2 separate regions of the Homo sapiens genome follow, and region 2 is linked to region 1. A link means that fine-mapping ties the variant in region 1 to the expression of a gene that starts in the linked region. Tissue or cell type: lung. Region 1 holds a variant in brackets; the other region holds the start of a gene. All regions are shown on one strand. Distances are between the middles of the regions.

The links. PIP is the estimated chance that this variant, and not a neighbour inherited with it, causes the effect.
Region 2: IFIH1 starts here. The variant in region 1 is fine-mapped to the expression of IFIH1 in lung (TOPMed, PIP above 0.99).

Annotation. Positions count from the first base shown.
Region 1 is chr2:162,154,494-162,159,761 of GRCh38, reverse strand. All of the region lies in intron 1 of LOC101929532 (a long non-coding RNA gene), which reads right to left. Among named protein-coding and RNA genes, the nearest start is that of GCG, 4.9 kb to the right of the region's middle. The variant A/G (reference allele first, on the strand shown) is at 2,287.
Region 2 is chr2:162,316,581-162,321,580 of GRCh38, reverse strand. IFIH1 (interferon induced with helicase C domain 1) reads left to right here and starts at 2,897. Exons shown (of 16, transcript NM_022168.4): 1 at 2,897-3,726. The coding sequence starts at 3,274. It also overlaps a transcript of GCA not described here. RefSeq lists enhancers at 1,665-2,864, 2,433-2,982 and a silencer at 3,013-3,102.

The DNA.
Region 1 (5,268 bases):
TCAAAAAGTTAAACATAGAGTTAGCATATAAGCCAGCGATTCTACTCCTAGGTATTTACCCAAGAGAATTAAAAACATAGTCCAGACAAAAATTTGTGCATGAATGTTCCCAGCAGCATTATTCATAATGGCCCCAAAGTGGAAACCACCCAGATGTCCATTACTGATAGATGGGTAAACTAGATGTGGTAAATAGCATACAATGGAATCATTTCAACCGTAAAAAGAATGAAGTACTGATTCCTTCTACAACGTGGATGAACCTTGAGAAGATTATGCTAAATAAAAGACATTAGACAAAAAAGATTATATGTTGAGTGATTCCATTTATATAAAATACACAGAACAGGCAAATGTGTATACAGAGAAAGTAGATCAGTAGTCAAGAGCTCGGAAAGAGGGCAAGGGGGAGTGACTGCTGATGAGTATGGGGTTTCTATTATGGGTGATGAAAAAGTTCTGAAATTAGATAACGGTAATGGTGACACAGCATTCTGAACATACTAAAAACTACTGAATCATACATTTTTTAAAAACTAAGCCCAAAAATACTTCCATCATCAACTGTTTAGCATTTAGATGTCTTGCTATCTTAGCTATCTGGAAGTTCTGAATAGATTTAGACAGCAGTCAAAGCTGATTTGAGGAGATTTTGCAAGTCCTCCCAGGACTACTTTGCAAAGCCTTACTCTAGAAAGGTTACAAAGTAGTGGGGTCCTGTATTCGGACCCAGATATGGCTTTAAGCAACTTGGTTGCCTGTTCTAAGCCCCTGTCTTGTTATTTGTAAAATGAAGGCAAAAATATTGAACTCGTTATGTATTTTGAGTATTAGAGAATAATATACTCAGCTTTGCCTTTAGTACATATTCAGGAAATGGTAGTTACTTCTATTCTTAGGCGGCTTGATCCTCATTTCTGAATTGTAAAAAATACTGGCTCTCATATTATGATTTTTAAATCTTTGCCTACAATTAAATCTGTATATGAATTCCAGGTGAGATATCAAAAAAGTAACGAACTAATCAGTAGTTGAAGCTATGTGCTAACCAATGGAAGGAATGACTATTACACTTTACCCTGGGTGTTTGGTCAAATGTGTCTCTGAATTTATAATTTTTATTTGATTCTTTTCATCAATGTCAACTGTCTTCAACAATACATTTATTAGAACAAGTGTCCATAAAAACATTAGAGGCAAATTGATGCTTAATAAATCAAATACATTTTTAAGATATTATTTGCATCACCCTTTTTTCCGCTATGAGTTTTGCCCATTATTTGTGGGGAAAGAATGCAAACAAACTGGGAGGCCGAGGCGGGCAGATGATGAGGTCAGGAGATCGAGACAATCCTTGCTAACACGATGAAACCCCGCCTCTACTAAAAATACAAAAAATTTAGCCTGGCTTGGTGGCTGGCGCCTGTAGTCCCAGCTACTCGGGAGGCTGAGGCAGGAGAATGGCGCGAACTCGGGAGGCGGAGCTTGCAGTGAGCCGAGATCACGCCACTGCACTCCAGCCTGGGCGACAGAACAAGACTCCGTCTCAAAAATAAATAAATAAATAAATAAATAAATAAATAAGCAAACAAAGGTGTAAAAGCCATGATCTTCGACCTCTAGAGTTTTGCTGATAAGTATTTATGGAGGAGAATGCTGGCAATCATGGACTAGACATATAAGAAAAAAAGGGAGACTCTATCATTCTTCAGCCTTAGAAAAGACTTATGGTTAGTCGACGGTGCTTTATGAGGAGAAAAGAATTTTTATTAAGATGGAAGTGAAAAGTCAGTTTTTACATCTTCTGACAACATGGCAACAAAGAAATGATTTACCTTTCAGTAAGAGCCAGGACTAGAACGCAGATATGAAATACTTCTGGCCATAGAAATGTTTCTGACCGCAGAAATAAATTATTTTGGTCATTTATTGCAAAATGGAAATGTAGAAATTTATTCTCCAGGTTTGAAAAATAAAATAGCCAAACAATGAATTGTAATACATTAAATAAATCTCTGCTTTAAAATAGGGTAATAGCCTAGATGGCTTTATGAATTATCCTCCCTTCTATGGTTATATCATTTCAATTTCACCAGAACACTGGGCATATCTTGATAATACATCTGATAAAATACAAATTGGCAATACTGAGTAAGTTTCAGGCAGGGGGTAAGTCTTACTACAAGGTATAATGAACAAGAAAAAGTATTTATAACTCAGGTTTGCATTCTCTGCATTTTCTTAGTATACAGACTCCAAATTTTAAATTTTCTAATGGCTGAAGTT[A/G]CTTCCTTTTACAGAAGACTTTAAAAAATTGCAATGTTTTAATTGGTTCACATTAAAGACTCTTAGAAGCTTGAAGAAAAAAAGTCTTTCCAGATGAGCAAGAGGTTGGATAAATGTAATGACATATGGTTTGTTTTTTATAGCTACAATATGCGAAAAATAGTAGCATAACACATGTATTCAATGATATATATGTATTTATACATATAAATATATATTCTGCTTGTAAATTATGAGATAAGATTCTTTTGTACAAATATGATTTTGTTTTCTTTCTCTTTCTTGTTCCCTTTAGGAATAAAAATAACAACTGAAACTTAGAACAGTTTTAAACATCTCATTATACCAGGGATCTTGCAAAAGATAAAATCAACGAATGCAAAGCCATGATGCCACACAGTCCCCTGCACAGACTTGTGAGCGGGCTGTCTGCAGGGTCTCGGAGCCTCAGGGCAGGAAGACTGTCCGTTGATCTTATTACTGAATCTTCCCCCCAACCCCAGCAGGCTTCCTCAGAATCCTTCCAGATTGATGGGTCATGAACTGATTTTTAAATATCTCTCAGGAAGGGTATTTCTCACATCCTCTGGCAAACTCAGAACTTCCCCTGGAAGTTCTTCTTTTATTACCGCTGGATCCCTGAGCCCATTAAGTCACTCACAGAGATGTGAAGGACATCTGATTATTACATTGTATGTATTCAATTTTTAACTTTTCAAATGCTCTCGTTAAGTGGCTCTTCAGAGTTAAAACTAATCAATAAAAACTTTTTCCTCAAATGCTATACATAATTTTTCTTTGATCTTTTGAAGGTTCACACCTATTTTCAGAAGACCCTTGTTATGGACCCTTGGATGGTATCTTAATACGCTGTGCTCTTCCTAGGTTAGAGTATTAAATACTGTCCAAGAATAAAAAACAAACCTCAAGCATATCAGGAAAGCTTGACTGGTCACTACTGCAGTTTTATCAAACAGAGCTAGGCAAATCCTAGGGATGGGTATTGAATAACATTGAGAAGAAGGGAGCAGTGATTTTGATTCCATTACCTCTGAGTGGTAGCTTCCTCTCTCTGCCTTCATTGCAGTTGTTTTTCCGTTACCTTGGCCCGGCCTAGGCTACTGTTTTCCATCCAGGCTCTGTTGCCACCATGTGTCTATGAAGTTCACTTATTTTACTTAGCTAATCCTTACTCACTGAAAAGTCTAACTCTTTGGCTTCCAAAGTGATAAATGACCAATTAGTCCTAATGACCAATCCCCACGATCATTCTATTATGGCTTTAACTTTTTAATATGGGAAATTTCAAACATAAATAAAGTAAGCAGAATTGCACAATGAACCCTGTTTATCCATCAGCCAGCTTCAACAATTATCAGTATTTTGCCATGGTTGTGTCATCTGTACCTCCACCCACACCTCAGACTTCTTTTTTTTTTTTGTAACTATTCTTTTTTTTCCTTTTAGGTAAAATTTACATAAATTAAAAATCACGAATCTTAGCTGTACTATTTTGATAATCGGATAAACCTGGTAACACATACCCTTATCATAATATAGAATATTTCCATCTCCCCAGAAAGTTCCCTCTTAGGCAATCCTCTCCCATCCTCTTCCAAGAAACAACCACAGTTCTGAGATTTTTAACTTCAATTTTGCCTGTTTTTGAACTTCTATAAATGGATTCATACAGTATATAGTTGTTCATGTCCATCTTCTTTTATGCAGCATAATGTCTGCAAAATTTTTCCACATTGCTGCCTGAGTCAGCTGTTGCTTAATTTTTGTTGCTGTATGAATTCCGTATCACAAATTGTTTTCTTTCTCTTGTTGATGGATACTTCAGTTAGTTTTTAAGTATTGTAAATAAAGCTTATCTGAACACTTTTTTACAAGTCATTTTGTGGATATATGTTTTTATTTCTCTTGGATAAAATACCCAGGAGTGGATTGCTAGGTCAAAGGGTAATTGTACATTTAGCTCTAAAGTTTTACCTTTTTCCAAAGTAGTTGTACTGTCACTCCTTTTTAAATTACATTTTTTGGTTTGTTTTGAATGGGTAATTCTATCAAATGGTCAAACAATCCAAACCACATAGCAGGTATATAAAAGAAGTATTCTTTGCATCCTGTCCCTGTCCACATGCACCCCACTTATCCACACTGCCTCCTACAGGTAAGCACTTTCATCAGCTTCTTGTCTATTTTAATTTTTTGACGCAATTATGAAAAATAAACACGTATTTCTGCCCCTCTCCCTTCTAAAACAAAAGGTAGCCTACTACATACCCATTCTGCACTTTCTTGTTTTCAACTAACAACATAACTTGGAGTCTTTCCCTACTGGTAAATAGACAGCGTCTTCATTTTTTTTTTTTTTCTAAACAGTGCTCTATTGCTGGCCCCTTGGATTAGTTCCCACCTGTTACTCTTCTACTCAACCTTGTACCTACATCATTACATATCTACATAGCAATATATGTGGGATAAATGTTCAGAATAGTGCTTTAGCCTTACTGGACCAAGAACTATAGGTATTAGTCACTTCGATAAGTATTACCAAACCACCTTTCAAAGGAGTTAATATTTTGTACTCCCATCAGCAACGCCTGAGAGTTCTCCCTACCCATAGACTTCCCATCGCAGCGCACTGTGAACCTGGATCTTTGCCATTCTCAACTATTCCTAAGTATTCCGAGCAGCTACAGAAAATAAACACACAATAACCCCACAATGCATGGTTTTGTGTAAATTTTTAAGAATTTTGAGGTGGTAAAAGCATTAAGGCAAGCATGAGGTCCTGCATGCAGCTTCATGCAGCTGCACAGGTTGTAAATCTGTGGAAATTGTCCTTAGGACTAAACATCATAAAGAAATCATATATGTCACTAGTCATAGACATACAGGGCTACCACTTTCCTTGCCTCACATCTAAATCACTGAATAACTGTATTGATGGGAATAGGCCAAGTAGAGGCTCAT
Region 2 (5,000 bases), 160 kb before region 1:
CACTGCCAGGTTAAGAGCATCTAACACTTTAAATTACACAAAGCAGGCTCATTATTGATACAAATGAGCAAACAAGTAAAGGAACAGAACAACAATTCCAGGGTTTCTCACTAAACTAAAATTATTGTCATTTTCTTTGAAAAAGACATTATTGCTATGCATGGTCGTTAAATTGTAGTGGCAGCTCATATTGTTACTACTTCTTAAAAACTCAAATGAAAAGTTGCATAACAATGGGAAAATACATAGTTCAGCAGGATCTCCTGCCTCAAAAGAGAAAGGAAAAAGAAACTTACATTTGGGAACTGGTGAAAAGGATTAAAATGAAACCTAGTAGAAGAAACTTGACAGAGGAAAACAATTAATTACTCAAGTGAAAAACAGAAAATAAACTAAATCATGATGCAAAAAATATAGATGAAAAAAGGATACATTGTGAGAGATTGTGTCTTGGCTTTTGTTTCCTTAACCTCCTTTCTCCAAAAAGGGTCCCATCAAGACTATGGGAGATTCCTAAAAAAGAAGTCCCTTCCACCCACACCTAATCCTCATCACTCAGACCTCATCCAGCAGAGAGACTCCTACTTGTGAGAAAATATGAATTGTTATTGTTGGGTATTATGTGATGCTAATAGGGTTAGAGGAGGATGACTATTTGGGAAATCAACCTGTGAAACTGTAATATACATTATTATGTAGATTTACTATGGTCTTCAGGGCATTTATCCTCACCTGCACATTGCATATTTTTTAGTCATTACTTACCATCTATCTTCCCACTCCCATTAGAATGTGAACTCCATAAAAGTAGGAGCTTTGTTAATTTTATTAACTGCACCTAGATCAGTGCTGGTCATGTAATAGATACTTAATAAACATATTTTAAATGACTAGATGATACAATGAATGATATAATTTGAATGCCAAATATTTAAATATCTTTGGTTTAAATGTTTATTATTTGAGAACAGGTCAAATACCAAACATTTGATCCTTTCTCTTCCAGAGCAACAATTAAGTGGTATGAAGAAAATAACATTAACTGGTTCCCCATATTCAGTCAGCAACCCCTTCTCATTCCCCCATGTTTGAAACCAAGAAACAGAAGGATAAGTGCCAGGAAAAAGAATGTTTTTTGGTTTGTTAGTTTGTGCTTTAACATGTTGAATAAAACCCACTGGCAGCTGGGGGATAGGAGTATGTTTTTGCAACAGCCTTAAAAGATATTTTCATAGACCCAATACTTAAAATTAATAATTTGAGTGCTTTTGTAGAAACATCTAATTGGATTATCCTCTATCTGGGTACAAGGTCATCTCCCAAAATTAAGTGAAAAAGGAGTAGGGTTCTGTGAAGAAACAGAAAAGAACAGTATAAATCAGGCCTACCTGCAAGCCCAAGGTTTCATTTACTTCAACTTTCAGTGTATTTAACATTATGCCAGCTGCTATGGTCAACTCAAATACAACTCCCAGGAGAGATGTCATCAAGAGCCCACCAGTTGTGAGTAGTGTACTAGTTACTATGTAAATATATCCCTTCTTCAAGCAGCTTACAATCCTTCAGGGGTAGAAAAAGCCTTGCTACATAAGATAATTAGAGAATAAAATAAGACATGTTACCATAAAGTGCTCATTTGGATATTTTGTATGCCCCTAGTAAACACTCACCAAGACTCTGTACTTCTATTATCCTGTTCAAAGCACTATCAGGTTTTCCTGGCCTACACAGACTTTATTGAATGTACTTTGCTAACAGATTATTTTTCCTAAATATGTCTCTTTGATAACCTAAATGATCTCTCCATCCTTTATATAATTCTGGACCATGAGATTCTAGTTATGGTGCGTATGTGCCTACCACCCACAGTCACATGTGGCTACAGAATGCCTTCAGAATGAGTAGTAACCTTAAGGACTCACATTTATGTGGCTTCTGTACCAAAATGAAGCTGCCATTTTTCAGTGTGAATATGTTTTTTTTCTCTCATGACATAGACAAATGTTGATGTTTACTACAAGTTGGTACATTAGTTGCTAATTAAGTTCCTAGCTGCTCCAGCCAAAACTTGCTGTATTGAATCCAAGAAAAGAATGGCAGCTATATCAAAAATAAGTTGTTGGGGGATTTTTTTGTTTTGTTTTATTAAAGGAAAGTTGTATATTAAAGAATATAGGGAACTTACAAGCTGGGATCTAGGAAACTTTAAGTCTTGGCTTCCTTCTAAGCTGAGTTGGTGGTTCAAGTCCATCCACATCTGTTACCAGGTCCTGGTCAAAGCTGCATAAATACCAGCAATCTAAATATGAGGCAGTAAAGTTAACTGTTTATTGTTACTCACTTTTTCGAACCCACCTCCAAATTCCCAGGGAAACAAGTTAGTGTTTGGGAACCCACAGGAGGTCAGGTTTATTTTAGGAAGGACTTCCTCCTGTCTTCTCCACATCTCTGCAAAGATGTCTTCTGAGCTTCATCTCTCACCTGTCCCTCGCAGTCTCACCACCCTCAGCCAGGCCTGCCTACATTCACCAGCCGAGGGTAACTCCCTGTTCACGTCCGGGTCTGTGGCAGTTTCTGTTCACTTCCCCTTTGGAAAGTCCCAAATCACATGCTTTTATGCCCTGCACATTTTGGCCTACAAAGGACCTTATTGTTAAGGCAGAACCTGCTGGGAAAACAAAATATCCGCCGGAGGAGCTTTGCTAGAGCGTTGGTCTTGGTGTCAGAGAGAATTCGCTTTCCTTTTCTGTTTCCCGCGGTGTCCTTAACCAAAGGCCTCCTCTCTTCACCCGCCCCGACCAAAAGGTGGCGTCTCCCTGAGGAAACTCCCTCCCCGCCAGGCAGATTACGTTTACAAAGTCCTGAGAAGAGAATCGAAACAGAAACCAAAGTCAGGCAAACTCTGTAAGAACTGCCTGACAGAAAGCTGGACTCAAAGCTCCTACCCGAGTGTGCAGCAGGATCGCCCCGGTCCGGGACCCCAGGCGCACACCGCAGAGTCCAAAGTGCCGCGCCTGCCGGCCGCACCTGCCTGCCGCGGCCCCGCGCGCCGCCCCGCTGCCCACCTGCCCGCCTGCCCACCTGCCCAGGTGCGAGTGCAGCCCCGCGCGCCGGCCTGAGAGCCCTGTGGACAACCTCGTCATTGTCAGGCACAGAGCGGTAGACCCTGCTTCTCTAAGTGGGCAGCGGACAGCGGCACGCACATTTCACCTGTCCCGCAGACAACAGCACCATCTGCTTGGGAGAACCCTCTCCCTTCTCTGAGAAAGAAAGATGTCGAATGGGTATTCCACAGACGAGAATTTCCGCTATCTCATCTCGTGCTTCAGGGCCAGGGTGAAAATGTACATCCAGGTGGAGCCTGTGCTGGACTACCTGACCTTTCTGCCTGCAGAGGTGAAGGAGCAGATTCAGAGGACAGTCGCCACCTCCGGGAACATGCAGGCAGTTGAACTGCTGCTGAGCACCTTGGAGAAGGGAGTCTGGCACCTTGGTTGGACTCGGGAATTCGTGGAGGCCCTCCGGAGAACCGGCAGCCCTCTGGCCGCCCGCTACATGAACCCTGAGCTCACGGACTTGCCCTCTCCATCGTTTGAGAACGCTCATGATGAATATCTCCAACTGCTGAACCTCCTTCAGCCCACTCTGGTGGACAAGCTTCTAGTTAGAGACGTCTTGGATAAGTGCATGGAGGAGGAACTGTTGACAATTGAAGACAGAAACCGGGTAGGTGTCTGTTCAGATGGAGCTAGCCTTTTAGGCAGATTTTGCAAAGCAGGCTTCCTTGTGCGTTTGCCCCTTTCCAAATGTGCTTGACCTCTTTGGGCAAATCTAGTTTCTTCCTTTGAGAAGACAACATCTAGGCACTTTAAGACAATTTTAAAAATTTAAACACAAAAGAACTACTTTTCTAATGTTTTCACTGAAGTAAAAAGGAGTTAACTCTAGAATCGTAATGTGTATTAACAGGTAACTTTTATTGAACACTTACTATGTGCAGTTGGTATCATTTTCAAAATGTATTACTACAGTTCATGTTCAGAGTAACCCACTGAGGCTCCTAATGTTATTAACTCCATTTTACAGATGAGAAACCTGAGGCAGGTTAAATAATTTGTCCAAGGTCTCCCAGGAAAAACAGTGGCAGAGCTAAGAATTTAGCTTGTGATAGTGTTGAATGTTTTTCTTATTTAATGTAGTTCCATGGAGCAGGGGTTAGTAAACTACGGCCCATGGGCTAAATCAAGCCTGCTACTGTTTTTTTCAGGCCCACAGGCTAAGAATGGTCTTCAGATTTTTCAATTTTTAATTTTCAGTGTTCATAAAGTTTTATTGGAACACAGTCATGCTCGTTTGTTTACATATTGCTTGTGGCTGCTTTTCTACTCCAAAGGCAATTGGATGGAGACTGTGTGCCCTTAAAGCCAAAAATATTTATTATCTGGCATTTTAGAGAAAAAGTTTTCCAATCTTTGCCCTACATTACACTTTGTGCCATTTAGTCTTAGCCCAAATGGGTAAATTGCAATCACACACACACACACACACACACACACACACACACCCTTTTTCTTTAATCAAAGTTTCAACATTCTTTGAGAATCAAAATTTAGAAACAATTCATTGAAAGAATGTGTTGCTAGTTTCAGTTTTTCATGTTAGTGAAGAAACTCATTTTTCTTAAGGTAGCATTTTGACAGGGCGAATTTTACTGATGACTTTACATTGAATGTGATATGAATTATTTTTTGATAAGTGAAGATGTACTGTGATGTGTATAAATGCTGACCTGTTTGAATGTGACTTATTCAGGCTCGTAAGTCAAAAGTCTTGTTTTGGAAGACATGTAGACAAATAAAGCCATGACTAAAAGTCAAAGGCTTTGTCTACACCACTCTATGATTTTCACATGGTTTTTTTCTCTCTCTCTCTTTTGGGTCATCCATTGTTTGTATATTCATACAAACTTCTGGGCATTTGATTGATTTGCTATAGCCTAT